2 separate regions of the Homo sapiens genome follow, and region 1 is linked to region 2. Evidence: fine-mapped expression QTL. A gene starts in region 2. The other region holds a variant in brackets. All regions are shown on one strand. Distances are between the middles of the regions.

The links. PIP is the estimated chance that this variant, and not a neighbour inherited with it, causes the effect.
Region 1: its variant is the best candidate, but not a certain one, in a credible set for the expression of ELP6 in whole blood (TOPMed, PIP 0.51).

What each region holds. Positions count from the first base shown.
Region 1 is chr3:47,318,125-47,321,037 of GRCh38, reverse strand. KLHL18 (kelch like family member 18) reads right to left here. Exons shown (of 10, transcript NM_025010.5): 2 at 1,255-1,385. Among named protein-coding and RNA genes, the nearest start is that of KLHL18, 37 kb to the right of the region's middle. The variant C/A (reference allele first, on the strand shown) is at 1,446.
Region 2 is chr3:47,512,631-47,515,512 of GRCh38, reverse strand. ELP6 (elongator acetyltransferase complex subunit 6) reads left to right here and starts at 1,801. Exons shown (of 7, transcript NM_001031703.3): 1 at 1,801-1,976. The coding sequence starts at 1,923. RefSeq lists enhancers at 1,837-1,946, 2,277-2,386.

The sequences.
Region 1 (2,913 bases), 190 kb after region 2:
GGACGAGCATGCCTCCTTCAGACACACACCTCAGAGAATAGGAGGGCACAACTGCCCTTGGACACCTTACTTCTACGTCTTTCCTCATAAGTAACTGGCCTAAGATTTCTTTCTTTCTTTTTCAAGAGTCAAGGTCTCACTCTGTTGCCCAGGCTGGAGTGTAGTGGTGTGATCACAGCTCGCGGCAGCCTTGACTTCCTCGGCTCACCTCCTACCTCAGCTTTCTAAGTAGCTGAGACTACAGGTGTGCACCACCATGCCCAGCTAATTAAAAACAATTTTTTTTTATAAAGATGTGGTTTATGTTGTCCAGGCTGGTCTTGAACTCCTAGCCTCAAGCAATCCTCCCGCCTTGACCTCCCAAATTGTTTGGATTTCAGGTGTGAGCCACCTTGCCTGGCCTGACCTGAGATTTCTACCTTGCCATGGGTATATAAATCCTCTTCCGGTATTGGGGCACTTTGATCATCTAGAGGGTAACACACAGTCTCCTAGCTCTTTTCCCCCTAGTTGTCACCACTGTCAGATTAAGAGGTTGGGCAATAACTGACTACCAGCTAAGGGGATAACCTTGGGCTTGATCTCCTTGAGCTTCAATTTTCTGAACCATGAAATAACCATAAGATCTGCCACCTTCTAAACCTGTGTTGTCTAATATAGTAGCCATTAGCCACATGTGACTATTTAACTTTAAAATTAAATTGATTAAAATTAAACAAAATTTAAAATTCAGTTCTTCAGTCCCACTAGTCGTATTTCGAGTGCTCAATAGCCATCTGTGTCTAGTGGCTACCATTTTGGGCAATACAAATAGAAAGAACATTTGCATCACTGCAGAAACCTCCAGTGGACAACACTGTTCTAGACTGATAAGAAGGGATGTAAATGAAGACACTTATTTGAAGAACTGTTTTGTCAGCTAAAATGACTAGCCCAGAAAAGTGCAGAGAATAATATACCACCACTCTTAAACCCAGCCCCAGTCAAAAAAAAAAAAAAAAATCATGGAGTCTAGGTCCTATTAAATGTATTTCTCTTATAGTAAGGTAAAAACAGCCCCATCAAAACTCCCTTCATTTTAACCCTATCTCAGACCACTGGCCCAGGTTCTAATCTGCTTATTAATCACTTATTATTTGTGTAGAGCTAGGCTATTAGACACTGTGTCCTGCTGCAGGTCCTCAACGGAACCGTGCACAGGCTGAAACTGCACTTGGAAAGCAGCCTGCGAAACCTAATGGTGGGATTCAGTACCTTGGGTCCATTCCTTGCATTACAATCTCATCCTGCTTGCACTCCATCATGTCATTTGTAAACATAGCATGGAAATACGGGATCGAGGCTGCTAAGACAATCCGGTGGGCACTGAATTTGTGGTCCCCAATCTGTGGGCAAAGTAAAATACAAAGACAGATATTGAGGAATGCAAAACAAAAACAAACAAA[C/A]AAAAAAACCCACCCTGCCCCTCCGCCCGGCTCCACAGCATACCCCACTGCCCACTGCAAAGGCGGTGAAGGCATCCCAGGGCATGGAGGCCAAGGCTTAGCATGATGACCCTGAAGTATTTTAAATGCAATATACTCAGTTACAGTAGAAGAATGTAAACAATACATTTTAATGAAGCGTTAAAACAGCTAAAAAATTTAAGCCTGAATGGTTTCATGTAATCGTTTTTACTTATATGGTAGTCTCCAATGCACCCCTTTCAGCTACTCCACCAACTCAAATACCTGATTCCTGTAACACTTTATCCCAACCTCAGGCAGATGGACTAGACAAATGGTCCAAGAATGCTGGTGCTCCTAACAGTATGCTCCTCAAGAAGAGTAAATATGTAGTGACTGGGCCGGAGGCAGGGGCATGAGGAGATACACTGGTGTTGTGGACTGGCTGCTGCTCTGTATGGCTAGCAGGGACAGAGGCCAACTCTTCCTCCAATGAGTGTCAAATCCTCACTGACACACCCTTAGCCTGAGGAATTCTATAAAGTGTTTTCCAACTATCTGCCAAAAGGCTCTTCCCTTCAATAAGCCATTTATAGCTCCAAGCTATATAAACATTTCCACTTAAGAACTTTCTATTCTCCAGGAAGAGCAAAACAGTCCTTTTTTCCTTTTTATCAGGTTCCACATTAGTGAAAAGCCAGGGAATCTCACTATCTGATGGTCATCTCTTTGTGTCATATTTATCCAAGGATTGAGGTTGGAAGATCGAATCATTGGATTAAACAGGCGTGAGCCACCGCACCCAGCCTCTGCTCAAATTTCTTAGAGTTGTTCTATGAGGTTTATTACAAAAGAAAAAACAACAACTAGCAGTCTCTGTTTTCTTGATTCCTTGCCCGCGATTCCTACTCCCAGGGGCAACCTCTTGCTTCTAGGACTTTTCTCCATCTTTCTAAATAATATGTGCTTACATATTACTTGTTGACTTTTCACTTTGAGTTATTCCCTGTGGTACCCAACCTCTAAATAGCTCCCAGTAAATGCTCACTCTTGGTATTTACACCCTTGTGCAGTCCCCTCCCACAACATGTCAGGGTTGGTCTATGTGACCAACAGAATATAGCAGAAGTGACGATGGTATGTCACATTCAAAGCTAGGTCATAAAAGGCACTGAAATTCCTCTTACCCTCTTCTTCTGGATCACTTGCTCTAAGAGAAGCTAAATAACATATCCTTAAGAGAGGCCCATATGAAGAAGACTGAAGACTTCTACAGCTACCTGAGTGAGCTTGGAAGAGCATCCTCCAGCTCCAGCCAAGCCTTCAGATGACAGCAACTTTGTGAGAAATGTCTAAGCTGCTTCTGAACTCCTGGCCAGCAGAAACTGTGAGATAATAAATACTTGTTTTAAGTCACTAAATTTTGGGCCGGACGCAGGGTGGCTCATGCCTGTAATCCCAGCACTTT
Region 2 (2,882 bases):
TTTTATGAAATTGTTTATGCTCAACAGGAACACCAAGACCTAGCTGTGAGTGTCAGGCCAATTTTTTTTTCTCTTTCTCACATTTCAATAAGCATGAAACATCTCATTCTTGGCTGAAGGATCTACATCCCTTTGACACAGAGAAGCAGCCTTGATTTCCATCCCAGGTGCAGAGCTTCAGCTAACGATTACATTCCACATCGATCTTAACCTTGTAGTTTCCACAGAAATGACCCTGGGTCCCCTTTGCAGTCCACGCCAGATTAGGACTCCACACACAGCTGTGCTGTGCTTTGAGCATATCAAACACCGGTTCACTTAAATTTCACCTGAATTCGACTCTTTCCCAAATCATATAACAATTATTTTAGTGACTGTCAATAAACTTGACTTTGGTGGAATTACAGGTTTGTCCACTGATCTGAGGCTGATTGGGCTAGAACAAAACTATATACGGTATAATAGATATAAATGTTATGGAAAAAAATAAAAGCAAGGAAAAAGAAGTGTTGGGAAAGGGACAGTTTGTGATTTAAGTAAGGTGCTCAGGGAAGGCCTCACGAATAAAGTGACATCGGAGCAGAGACCTGAAGGAAGTGGGGAATTTTAAAATCAGCTTAATATCTGGGAAAAGGGGCATTCCAGGAAGAGGGAAGAGTTAGTATAAAGGCTCTGAGGACAGGCATACAGGGCGTGTTGCAACCACACTGTTTTTTAACGAAGTCTCACACTGCTGCCCAGGCTAGAGAGCAATGGCGTGATCTCGGCTTACTGCAACCTCTGCCTCCCAGGTTCAAGCGATTCTACTGGCTCAGCCTCCCGAGTGGCTGGGATGACAGGCGCCCCCCACCACGCCAGGCTAATTTTTTGTATTTTTAATAGAGAAGGGGGTTTCACTATATTGGCCAGGCTAGTCTCGAACTCCTGACCTCGTGATCCCTCCGTCTAGGCCTCCCAAAGTGCTGGCATTACAGGTGTGAGCCACCGCGCCCAGCCGCAACCACACTTTCTTAGTGAGACCCACCCTGACAACCTCTTTAATTCTGGAACCTACCCCTGCCCCCATTGGTACTCTCTAATCCCACTTTGCTTTTCTCCACACAACTTTTCAAGATATAATTCCGTGTCGGCCGGGCGTGGTGGCTCATGCCTGTAATCCCAGCACTTTGGGAGGCCGAGGCCGGCGGATCACGAGGTCGGGAGATCAAGACCATCCTGGCTAACACGGTGAAACCCCGTCTCTACTAAAAATACAAAAAATTAGCCGGGCGTGGTGGCGGGCGCCTGTAGTCCCAGCTACACTCGGGAGGCTGAGGCAGGAGAATGGCGTGAACCCAGGAGGCGGAGACTGTAGTGAGCCGAGATCGCGCCACTGCACTCCAGCCTGGGCGACAGGGCAAGACTCCGTCTCAATTAAATAATAATAATAATAATAATAATAATAATAATAATAATAAATTCCCTGTCCTTTGTTTTTGTTCATCGATGTAGCCCAAGCTCCCAGGAGTGTGGGGCATACAGAAGGCGCTTGACAGCCACGTGTGGAGAAAAGGAGCCCGGGGCTGGGCAGAGAGCGAGGCCAAGGGAAGAAGAATACTCGGTCGCGTGGAGCCTTGGGGGCCCACTGGGAGGGCTCGGGCGCCACGCAGATCTGCGCGGAATGAGCCGCCAGAGGCCGCTGGCAGTCGCACAGAGAAGCCCATCGTTTCCTACCACCTGGGACTCGACGGACGTCTACGCGCGTGCGCAGCGGTCCCATCGAGGCACCCGCCTCATTGGCTGTGGCTGGCTCGCAAAAGTGGCATTGCGCATGCGCGCTTCCTTGCGCGAGCCGGGCTGTCGGGTGTGTTTTGCTCTCCAGCCTCCGTCGTCTCTGCAGCACTCCGGGTTCTCCTCCAGAGCGCTAGTCCCAGGAGCTCGGAATGTTCGTGGAACTTAATAACCTGCTTAACACCACCCCCGACAGGGCGGAGCAGGTAAGAGGTCCCGCTGGCCGGAAGGGGGCGGGACCTGGCAGGGCAGCGGAATACTGCATCCGGGAGGCGGTGCGCACGACCCCGGGGAATGGCGCGACGACCCGGCACGGGGTACCTGGGAGTTGTAGTCCGCAGAGGATCGACCCGGGGATTGGACTGGAGGCTTGGGCCCGCCGAAAGTGGGCTTCTGGGCCATCTCGCATATTCTCAACGGCTGTGCGTGTCCTTAAAAGTCCCTGGGAAGCGGCCGGGCGCGGTGGCTCACCCCTGTAATCCCAGCAGTTTGGGAGGCCGAGGCGGGTGCATCATCTAAGGTCAAGAGTTCGAGACAAGTCTGGCCAAGATGGTGAAACCCCCGTCTCTACGAAAAATACAAAAATTAGCCGGGCGTGGTGGCTCATGCCTGTAATCTCAGCTACTCGGGAGGCTGAGACAGGAGAATTGCTTGAACCCGGGAGGCGGAGGTTGCAGTGACCCGAGATCTCGCCACCGCACTCCAGCCTGGGCGACAGAGCGGGACTCCACCTCAAAAAAAAAAAAAAAAAGTACCTGGGAAGCATGGCCGACAGTGGGGTTGGGTTATATTCGCGGACGTGAACTGTGGCGCGCTGTGCATGTTCACTGGGGTGGGGGGTCCCAGGCGCTCAGAGGAGACTGCAGAATAGGCCCGAGAGGAGAGGGGAGTTCGTTTCGCCGCCGTCTTCATGGGCGAGCTTCCTAACCGCCACCTCGCCCCGGAGCAATTGGCACATTGTATTGAACGCTGCTGTTCTTCTTACTCTTCCTCCTTGTGATCTCTAATAGAACTGTTAGAAGCAGGACAGAGCCAAATTGGCTTGGACCAAGTCCGTCTTGGGCACCCCAGGCTGGCCTGTTCTCTCCACCCTCCTCACACTCCGGGGTACC